3 linked regions of the Homo sapiens genome follow. The protein of the gene in region 1 interacts with the protein of each later gene in a pairwise test. Each region holds a gene or a part of one and is shown on either strand. Other genes may lie near its edges. The genes, in order: SPDYA, AQP1 and CDK16.

The links.
Region 2: the proteins of SPDYA (region 1) and AQP1 interact in binary tests that used the Homo sapiens proteins (3 or more experiments, as listed by UniProt).
Region 3: the proteins of SPDYA (region 1) and CDK16 interact in a two-hybrid assay, tested with the Homo sapiens proteins (one study listed by IntAct).

The regions. Positions count from the first base shown.
Region 1 is NC_000002.12:28,845,119-28,848,847, reverse strand, and holds part of SPDYA (speedy protein A), read right to left. Parts: intron 1-3,729. UniProt on the Homo sapiens protein: Regulates the G1/S phase transition of the cell cycle by binding and activating CDK1 and CDK2.
Region 2 is NC_000007.14:30,914,677-30,918,405, reverse strand, and holds part of AQP1 (aquaporin-1), read right to left. Parts: intron 1-3,729. UniProt on the Homo sapiens protein: Forms a water channel that facilitates the transport of water across cell membranes, playing a crucial role in water homeostasis in various tissues.
Region 3 is NC_000023.11:47,225,181-47,228,680, forward strand, and holds part of CDK16 (cyclin-dependent kinase 16), read left to right. Parts: intron 1-591; coding exon 592-686; intron 687-784; coding exon 785-847; intron 848-1,098; coding exon 1,099-1,222; intron 1,223-1,402; coding exon 1,403-1,523; intron 1,524-1,631; coding exon 1,632-1,729; intron 1,730-1,813; coding exon 1,814-1,919; intron 1,920-2,000; coding exon 2,001-2,043; intron 2,044-2,198; coding exon 2,199-2,289; intron 2,290-3,386; coding exon 3,387-3,464; intron 3,465-3,500. UniProt on the Homo sapiens protein: Protein kinase that plays a role in vesicle-mediated transport processes and exocytosis. Regulates GH1 release by brain neurons. Phosphorylates NSF, and thereby regulates NSF oligomerization. Required for normal spermatogenesis.

The sequences.
Region 1 (3,729 bases):
GGTCTCAAACTCCGAAGCTCAAGCAGTCCTTCTGCCTTGACCTCCCAAAGTGCTGGGATTATAGGTGTGGAGCCACCATGCCCGGCCTGTTTTATGGGCTGTAAAATAGTAATGCCTTGGAGGGTAAATGCTACCATTCCTAGATTTATCTCTTAGGCTAGAAGTATTTAAAATTATACATGTGTGTAAATTTTTTATTAAATAACATATTATAGAACGTAGGACATTTTAAAGTAAAATCTCTGCCTTTTTAGAGTTTATAGTCTATGATAGAGCTTGACATTAATCACACAGATGTAAAACTAAAACTGTTATAAATTCCCCCCAAAGAAGTACAAGGTACTATGAGTAACCATAATGGGGGACTTTGCCCTAGCAAGTGACAATTGAGCTGAGAACTGAATGCTAAGTAGGAATTAACTACAGCAGGGAAAATGGGAATAAAAAGTGATGCTGGGGTAGAGTGGAAAAGACTGGATAGATAGATGGGGATGAGGCCATGCAAGTTCTCATATGCCCGTGAAGGAATTGGTGTATCCTAAGAAAAATGGGATTCCATTGAAGAATTTAAGTAAGGGGTGACATGTTTAGATCTGTGTTTTGAAAATCACTCTGGCTGCATTTAGACAAGTGATTGAATCAGGAGCAGAGTATTCTGGTGGTATATTTCTGTATGTAACTAGCTGAACATTTATATAATAATGATGCCTTTATAGCTTTTATAACATTTCCAGATACAGTTATACATTGCTTAACAGTGGCAGTACATTCTGTTAAATGCATAGTTGGGCAGTTTCATCATTGTGTGAACATTACATAGTGTACTTACACAAACCTAGGTGGTATAGCCTACTACACACCTAGGTTATATGGTATAGCCTACTACTTCTAGACTGCAAACCTGGATAGCATGTTACTGTACTAACTACCATTCGCATTTATAAGACAATGGTAAGTATGTGTGTATCTAAACATAGAAAAGGTACTGTGTTGCAGTACAGGTCTATGATGTCAGTAGGTGATAGGAATTTTTCAGCTCCATTATAATCTTTCCTTCCATCCTTCTTCTTTTCTTTTCTTTTTCTTTTTCTTTTTTTTTTTTGAGACAGAGTCTTGCTCTGTTGCCCAGGCTGGAGTGCAGTGACACGATCTTGGCTCACTGCAACCTCCAACTCCCAGGTTCAAGCAATTCCCCGGTCTCAGCCTCCCGAGTACCTGTGATTACAGGTATGTGCCATCACGCCCGGCTAATTTTTGTATTTTTTTAAGAGACAGGGTTTCACCATGTTAGCCAGGCTGGTCACAAACTCCTGACCTTAAGTGATCCATCCACCTGCCTCGGCCTCCCACAGTTCTAGGATTACAGGTGTGAGCCACCATGCCCAGCCATTATAATCTTAGGGGAACACCATCCTGTATGCAGTCCCACCTTGAGTGAAATGTCATTATGTGGCGCATGACTATATAGAAGCTCTGAAGTGTTTGTTTGTTTGTTTGTTTGTTTTGAGACAGAGTCTCGCTCTGTTGCCCAGACTGGAGTGCAATGGCATGGTCTTGGCTCACTGCAACCTCCACCTCCTAGGTTCAAGCAATTCTCCTGTCTTAGCCTCCCAAGTAGCTGGGATTACAGACACACGCTCCCACGCCTGGCTAATTTTTGTATTTTTAGTAGAGATAGGGTTTCACCATGTTGGCCAGGCTGATCTCAAACTCCTGACCTCAGGTGATCCACCCGACTCAGCCACCCAAACTGCTGGGATTACAGGAATGAGCCACTGCACGTGGCCTGAAGTCCATTTTTTAATTCCATCATGGAATACTCCCTTTTCTTCTACCCTTCTATTTAGCTAGTAATGAAATTATGTTATTCATTTAATGCTTTGAATGCCTATTTTGTGTCAATCCCCAATTGTCTACTTTGAGAAGGGGCTGGCTTAAGAGCCAAGAAAAGTTCTGCCCTTGGCTCCTGTTTCATGGAGAATACATTGTTTCTGTTTGGCACATGGTGCTCAGTAGATGTTGAATTGAACAAGACCTTTTTAACAGTATCCATTCATTTCCCCTCACTTCCCTTTGTGTGTGTGTGTGTGTGTGTGTGTGTGTGTGTGTGTGTGTGTGTGTGTGTAGTTTTCTTCTATTTCTCTTCTTTTTCTTTGGTAGTTGTCCATTCTAGTCAATCAAGGCCCAGCTTAAGCTCTTTCTTCAGCCTTCCTCCAAACAATAAGTATGTTTACAGTCTGGTTTATGGGACAGATACCTTCTAATGTTAGCCTTCTATGTCTATGTCTGGCTGTCCTGTAAACTAAAGATTTGAGACTGACCGAAAACTGTCATCCCAATGCCTTCCAGAGGCCCTACCTTTTATACCCAGTAAATAGTCACTAAAACTTTCCTGATGTCTTTAAACCTACACTGGATCATGTTTTTGTTTTTGTTTTTTGAGATGGCATCTAGCTCTGTCACCCAGGCTGGAGTGCAGTGGTGCAGTCTCAGCTCACTGCAACCTCCACCTCCCAGGTTCAAGCAATTCTCCTGCCTCAGTCTCTGGAGTAGCTGGAATTACAGGCATGCACCACCACCACGCCTGGCTAATTTTTCTATTTTTAGTAGAGATGGGGTTTCACCATGTTGGCCAGGCTGGTCTCGAGCTCCTGACCTCAAGTGATCTGCCCGCTTCAGCCTCCCAAAGTGCTGGGATTACAGGCGTGAGCCACCATGCCCAGCCAAGGGTCATGTATTGTTTTATCTGTTGACTTGGTTGTTCTAGAGGGAAATTTAGGTATACATAGTATATAGTTCTGCGATTGTGGGAGGCTTTCATTTTGAACTTCATATTTTCAGAGGCAGTGGGAACTTCTGAAGTTTCTATGGTCATGTAAAAGGTATTTTAAGTTAATCTGTTAGTGGTGTCTATGAGAATTTAACTGGAGGAAAAAACTGTTAAATCAGAGCTTTCATAGTAATACATATATAAGGTGATTAATCGTAGAAAATGAGCAGACAGGTCGGGCGCGGTGGCTCACGCCTGTAATCCCAGCACTTTGGGAGGCTGAGACAGGTGGATCACCTGAGGTCAGGAGTTCGAGACCAGCCTGACCAACATGGTGAAACCCTGTCTCTACTAAAAATACAAAAACTAGCTGGGCATGGTGGAGCATGCCTGTAATCCCAGCTACTGGGAAGGCTGAGGCACAAGAATTGCCTGAACCCAGGAGATGGAGGTTGCAGTGAGCTGAGATCGCACCATTGCACTCCAGCCTGGGCAACAAGCAAAACTCCATCTCAAACAAACAAAGAAAGAAACAAAATATTATGAAAGAACAACCAGATAAGCTGGTAATTCATTGGATGCAGAGAGAAAATTTATATATCGAGACTTTTTGACTTACAATGGAGTTATGTCCCAATAAACTCTTGTAACTTGAAGATATCATTAAGTCAAAATGCATTTGGGCCAGGTGCAGTGATTTACATCTGTAACCCCACCACTTTGGGAGGCCAAGGTGGGAGGATTGCTTGAGGTCAGGAGTCCGAGACCAGCACCAGTCTGGGCAACATAGGAAGTCTCTACAAAAAAAAAAAGAAAAAAAAAAAAAAAGCTGGGCATGGTGGCACGTGCCTGTAGTGCCAGCTACTCAGGAGGCTGAGGTGGGAGGATCACTTGAACAGAGGAGGTTGAGGCTACAGTGAGCTGTGATCACATCACTACACTCCAGCCCAGGTGACAGA
Region 2 (3,729 bases), on another chromosome or scaffold:
GCTGTGTCTGTGATGACCACATGTGTCCAGGGCTGACTCCCTCTTTCTCTTTTTTGTTAGATTGTAAGTGGTTTATTACACAATAATTACATTTTAAAAATCTATAAAAGAACTGGCCAGGCGCGGTGGCTCACGCCTGTAATCCCAGCACTCTGAGAAGCCAAGGCGGGTGGATCACAAGGTCAGGAGATCGAGACCATCCTGGCTAACACGGTTAAACCCCGTCTCTACTAAAAATACAAAAACAAAATTAGCCGGGTGTGGTGGCCTGTGGTCCCAGCTACTCGGGAGGCTGAGGTGGGAGAATGGCATAAACCCGGGAGGCAGAACTTGCAGTGAGCCGAGATGGTGCCACTGCACTCCAGCCTGGGCGACAGAGTGAGACTCCGTCTCAAAAAAAAAAATAAAAATCTATAAAGGAACTGCAAAAATCCCCCACTTGTATGCACCAAACAACATAGCCTAAAAATAAATGAGGGGAAAATTGACAAAATTACAAGGAGGACTGGATCACCCTACCACCAGAGTGAAAAATGTTAACAATCTTCTATTAGAAATGTACAGAATAAATGAAGCAGCCGAAAACTACCAATAACATGATCAGGGAGGGTTTGAACCCCATAATTAACAAGCTTGACTTCAGAAAAATATGAAAACCCTGTACCCCTGAATTAGAGAATGCACACTCTTTTTCATCAACTGATGAGGTACTGACCAAGTGCCTCGGCCTCCCTGGGAACAGCTATATCATACAGGCATCCCTGCAGGACATGAGGTCCTGGAGGCTGTGCTGTGTGTTTGCACTGGTATGTCTGATGGCACTTCTGGGTGCCTCACTGTCTCCCTGTGTCACACACCCACATAGCTGCCACTACCAGCTAGAGAGGGAAGAGAAGAGAAAAAAATGAGCCCCCCATGTGAGAAAGCAGCAGGTCTCAACAAGGCCTTTATTTGCTCCCAGAAGCCATTTCATCTTCCTGACAAGAAACAATACACAAAGCAATGGCTTCCTCCCTCCCTCCCTCCTTCTTTTCCTAACTCCAGGGCAGGGAGAGGAAAAGGCTCCATTGAGGAATCCCCGCCCAACCCTCCTTGGGTCCCAGAGTCTGAGTGGGACCACCCAGTCTTGAGAATGTGCTTTGTGTACCATGTGTGTGTGTCCTCCACGTAAGAGCACATGTGTGTGCATGTTTGTGTTTGTGCCATGTGTGTACACTTTGGAGCAGCAGGAATAATCAAGGGCTAGGAGGCAGTGCCACCTTGACAAGTCTCCACGCCTCTGTGGGCTTCAGTTTCCCCATCAGTAAAATGGAGGCCTTGGCCCAGATTCGAGCCCCCGCAGTCTCCAAAAGTGCCTCCTGCCTCACATCGGGGTGGTCACTCTCCAGCCCCAGATCCAGAAACCTAAGCACAGGATCCCCCGCAGGCCATCAGAATTGCTGATCTCAGCATGACACAAAGCCTATGCTGCAGAACCTGTCACCCACCCCACTGGACCCCCGCATAGACTAGCACCCCCAAAGCAGCCTCCTCACCAGAAAGCATCTACTTGCACACCCCTAATGGCAGGGAGCTTATTGACTTAGAGACAGCCCCTTCTTCGTGTCAACAACAATATCAACAACAACCTTCTTTACACTGAGTAGAAATCTGCCTTTCAAGGGGCCCTGACAGCGAGATTGCAGGCACTGAAAGGAGCTGCTGGAAGGGCCGGGGGCATTTTCCGGCCTTTCCGGATATCTTTTAAGTTGGAGATTTCAGCCTCAGAGTCTGCCCACCCCACAGAACTGTAGCTCCTGGCTGAGTGAAGACAGCCCCTCATGATCCCCCTGGGCACCACTCCATGTGGGCAAGGAGCCCCTCTCATCCCCATGGGGAAGCCCTGACTGAGGGGATCCTGGCCACTTGCAGGGCCTCGCGGACAGCATTTTCCTGCCTTCACCTCCCGGTGTGAGGGCTCAGATCCCAGCCACTCAGGAGACTCCAGACTCATTGGTGCTTCCAGAAGGTAAGGGCCATGGCCCCTGCTGGGTGGGGGCCCTAGACTAAGTGGGGGTACCATCTGGAATTGGCTTGCAGTGAGCTAATGGCCACTTCATGCTGCTAGAAGGTTGCCTGGGGTGGAGAAGGGAAGGCAAGGTGTGACAGGAGGCTGTGGCCTGGGAGTGGTGAGCAGGGGGTGAGCCCCTCAGACAGGTATCCCAGGAGGCCGTGTCCCCTCTCAAAGCATGGCCCCTTCAGAGTTCCCAGGGCAAATCCCAGTCAGGGCCAAGCATCAGGGTGGGCAACACTGGGACCGGCTGGGCTGTTCTGAGGTCCCTAAAGGGGAAGCAGCGTCAGGATTTTCCATGGTGAGGGAAGTCTCCACCACAAAGCTCCCCATCTCTGTGCCCTCCCCCTCATCTGGGGCTGGCGGAAACAGTAATTATATGTCCCAGATGTGGCATCACCACCCAGCCCCCAGCCCCTCCCTGGGCAGGACGGGCTGGGCAGGGACATGGAAACTCTGCCTTCCTTTCCCCATCCCTCCCCTGAGCTCTGGAGGAGGCAGCAGCACCCCCGGGAGAACTGGTGGCATGAAGAGGCCTCTCACTCTATGACTGGGGAAACTGAAGCCCAGAAAAACGGGATAAAGGGGAGAACTTAGGGCTTCAGTCAGGCCCCTGATGCTGCAGGTAGAAACACTTCTTGAGCAGTCAGGCCTGGAATTAGCAGGGCTGGGAGAAGACCCCGAAGAGGGTAGCTTTGCCCTCTGCCTGAGCCCAGCGGGCTGAAATCACAGGCTCTGGGAATCCAGACCCCTTCCCCCGGATGCAGCCCCTGGCCCGAATCCTGAGCCCTCACCACCCTCCTCCCATGCACCCCCAGCCTGACCATACCCAACAACTCCCGTACCACGGCCCTCACCTCCTCCTAGCCTGTGCTTGCTCACACAGTCCCTCTGCCCCTTCCCTCTGCAGTGTCTCCACATTCAGGCTCCTACGAAACCTCCTCCCTGATGCCTTCCTGGCCCTCCCACCCCTTAAGTTCAAAAGTTCCCGGGCCCGCCCTGACACCTCTTATCGCATCTGCCTCCTGCTTCATATCACAGGCAGCTGGGCACTGGCTTATCTTGACCTAGGGCTGTGGGCTTCTCTCGGGAGGGAGCCGGGCTAACCCAGCCCTGCATTGAGCACCCAGCAGTCCCTGGTCATGCTTGCAGGGAGCCGGCTGAGCAGACCAGACAGCAGAAGAATGAAAAAAGCCAGCAAATGCCAGGAATCCTGAGTCCACCAGCATCTCCTACTTCTCAGAGCCCAGCCACACCCTGCTATGTCCCTATCTCATAGACAGGAACTAGGGCCACACAGGCCAGTCTGTTGTGTGATGCCACATGGTGTTAGTGGCTGAGCTAGGACAGGGACAGGTGAGAGTGTCCACCCCAGCCTCAGAGCCTCTCACCCTTAGCCAAAATTGGTATTTGGCTCTTAGAACTAGCCGGGACCTTGCAGGCTGGACGGAGGCCCACGGTCTCTCTAGGGCATATCCTGAGCCCTGAGTCAGTCAGGAGAAAGTTGTCCCCAGCATGTCCCGAAGGGACACCCCCTGACTCACCCCAACCACTTCCTGCCACATCTTTCTCTGTTTTCCTTGGAAATCTCCATGCCAACCACTTGCCCCACCCAGGTTTTGACTGGGCTGGGGCTCAGGGCCAGAGAGGCTGCAGGAGCCTACCCCAGGTCATGAAAG
Region 3 (3,500 bases), on another chromosome or scaffold:
TGGTTCTAAGACCCCCCAAAACACTCTGGCTTTCATGGGAATGCCTGTCACCCACATATCCAGGTAATAATCAGGGTAACCAGGAATCTGTTCCCATTTGGATAAAAGGTAGATGAATTGCAAACCAGGGTTTGGTTCTGAGAACACCCCTGAAAGTGCTCACCAGTTTATTTACTGTAACAATTTCTAGTCAGAATATCACATGGAATGAATTTGAATTGCACTGAAATTTAGTGTGCAAATTCGATTTCACGCGATGCTGCAGGCCTATGTACTGAGGGTTGGAGCCAGGCCCCTTCCCAGAAACCAAAAACAGGTTGTGAAAATCTAGTGTCACATGAGCCTGGGGCTGCAATCCCAGGTTCTTGCTCCATACTCTCCTCTGAGTCTTATTTTCCACATCTGCAACATGGAGACACAACTTTCTTCTGGCATGAGGCGGGTTAGAGCTGGTGGCTCCGAGGCATTACCCTGAACTGTCTAGAGAAAGAAAGAAAACCTGGGCTTGTCCCTTTCTAGTCCTTGTCCTCACCTCTGTCCTGAGGGTAGGACCCTGACTCTTCCCCTGTCCCACTCCCATGCTTCCTGCAGTGTCCCTGCTCAAGGACCTCAAACACGCCAACATCGTTACGCTACATGACATTATCCACACGGAGAAGTCCCTCACCCTTGTCTTTGAGTACCTGGTAAGGTTGAGTGGCAGTAGGTCCCAGGGGGAGGTGAGGAGAAGGCCAGGAGCCATAGGAAGTAACCCTCATTCCTGTACCACCTCTTCTTTCCTCAGGACAAGGACCTGAAGCAGTACCTGGATGACTGTGGGAACATCATCAACATGCACAACGTGAAAGTGGGTGTGGGGCAGGAAGCAGGGGCACAAGGGGGCCCCCACTCACCCACTCCAACCCACAAATCTCCCAGAAACGGACTTTTCCCTTTGGCTTTTTTTGCTAGGAGCCCTTGGAGGGCACTGGGACCCTGTCCTCTTTTGTGTGACAAGGCTCTGGGCCTAGTGTCTGTGTTTGGGAGGGGAGCAGTGCCTGCTGGGGGTCGGGCTAGTGGATAGTCTTTGACCTCTGCCTGCCATTCCTGGGTCCCCAGCTGTTCCTGTTCCAGCTGCTCCGTGGCCTGGCCTACTGCCACCGGCAGAAGGTGCTACACCGAGACCTCAAGCCCCAGAACCTGCTCATCAACGAGAGGGGAGAGCTCAAGCTGGCTGACTTTGGTACCACTGGCCTCCCCTTTCTTATTGGCTCCCCAGCCTCCTACTTTCCCATGACCACTTAGTCTCACTTCCCTTCAGCCTTGCCAGATTTTGCCTAGGACACCCTCAGTCTCAACTGCACTCTCCCCGAGACTTTGCCCATGACTCCCTCATTCTAGCTGTCCTTTCTCTGATTTCCAGGCCTGGCCCGAGCCAAGTCAATCCCAACAAAGACATACTCCAATGAGGTGGTGACACTGTGGTACCGGCCCCCTGACATCCTGCTTGGGTCCACGGACTACTCCACTCAGATTGACATGTGGTAAGGACAGGTGGAAGTGTGGCAGGGGCCATGTGGTAAAGGGGGTGGCTTGGTCACAACAGCCACCCAGCCAGCTGCCTTTCTATTCACTGTGCCCTCCCTGCCCAGGGGTGTGGGCTGCATCTTCTATGAGATGGCCACAGGCCGTCCCCTCTTTCCGGGCTCCACGGTGGAGGAACAGCTACACTTCATCTTCCGTATCTTAGGTGAGGAGGCATGGGCCCTAGGCGCTGTGGAGACACACGGGGAGGACCTGTGAAATGTTTGGGATAACTCCTCTTCCCTACTAGGAACCCCAACTGAGGAGACGTGGCCAGGCATCCTGTCCAACGAGGAGTTCAAGACATACAACTACCCCAAGTACCGAGCCGAGGCCCTTTTGAGCCACGCACCCCGGTGAGGCTGGTGGGTGGGTGGGCGTTAGGGGCCAGAGTGTCCAAACTCATTTTAAATCAGGTCTCTTTGTCCTTGTGGCAGACTTGATAGCGACGGGGCCGACCTCCTCACCAAGCTGTTGCAGGTGAGACCACCTTGGGTCAGCCTTGGGGGTATGGGATTCCAAGTGTGGGGAAACAGGGACCCCCCCCCTCAAACCAGGGGCAGGGTCTGAGGTGGGCAGAGAGACCTACTTGTTGAAGATATCAATACTATCCCCCTCCCCGCACCCCCACTCAGTTTGAGGGTCGAAATCGGATCTCCGCAGAGGATGCCATGAAACATCCATTCTTCCTCAGTCTGGGGGAGCGGATCCACAAACTTCCTGACAGTGAGTGGAGCTGGGGAATGGACCGGCCAGCGTGGGGACTGGGAAACAGGACTGCTGGGGCCAGCTGGCGGGTTGTGTAGGATTCTGGCTGTGCCACCTCTACGTGGGGGGACATCTTGTTCACGTGTGTGATGGGTTGTATTTGTTATGAAAACATTTTTTAGTTTTCAGTTCCTTTTACCTTTCATGAAAAATTTAAAACATACATAAAAATATATGCAATAGCACTTTACTTTTTTTAAAGTAGACATTTCCTTACATGTGCTAAAAAATGCACAAATCATAAGTATACTATACAATGAATTTTCATAAATGAAACACATCCTTGTAACTAGCACAAAAGTCAAGAAACAGAATGTTAAAAGCTCCCCACCCCCAGCTCCCTTGCATCTCCTTCAGTTATTCCCAGCCCCTTCCCAAAGGGTGGCCACTGTTTTGACCTCTAACAGCAAGGATAAGTTTTTTCTGTCCTTGTACTTTATAGAAATAGAATCACATGTGATGTTCTTTTTATATCTGGCTTTTAAAAACTTTTTAATATGGATATTTTCAAATATATGTATTTATATATTAGTCAAAGTAATATGATGAGTCCCTAAGTACTCCAGTGAGTCATCAATTCATGGTCAATCTGGTTTTATCTATATTCTCTCTGATTATTTTGAATCACATCCAATCCCAGACATCATAGCATTTATCCTTAAATAATTTCAGCATATACCTATAAAAGATTTTTTTAAAACAACAATATTATTATCAAACCTACAAAAAACATTTGCTCACTTTCCCTATCTTCCCACTGGATTAATATATAAAGCAAACCCCAAACACCACCCATCACCTAGACTTAACAGGTGGTAATTGCAATACCATAATTCACTTGACAAAGTTAATAATGATTTCTTTGTGTCATGTAATAGTCTATATTTCATCTTCCCTGGTTGTAGCTGGTTTGTGTATGGAATTGTTTGACAGATAAAGGTCAAGCCTCTCAGAGAAGGGGCAGCTTTTTCTAATTCTTCCCATGGGGTCATATGGGGCTGGTCCTAGATGACCTCATGGGTCATCCCCCACTTCTATGTCTCCCCCATCTGTAGCTACTTCCATATTTGCACTAAAGGAGATTCAGCTACAAAAGGAGGCCAGCCTTCGGTCTTCGTCGATGCCTGACTCAGGTAGGTATAGCCCCTTGTCTTCCTCCCTGCCCCACC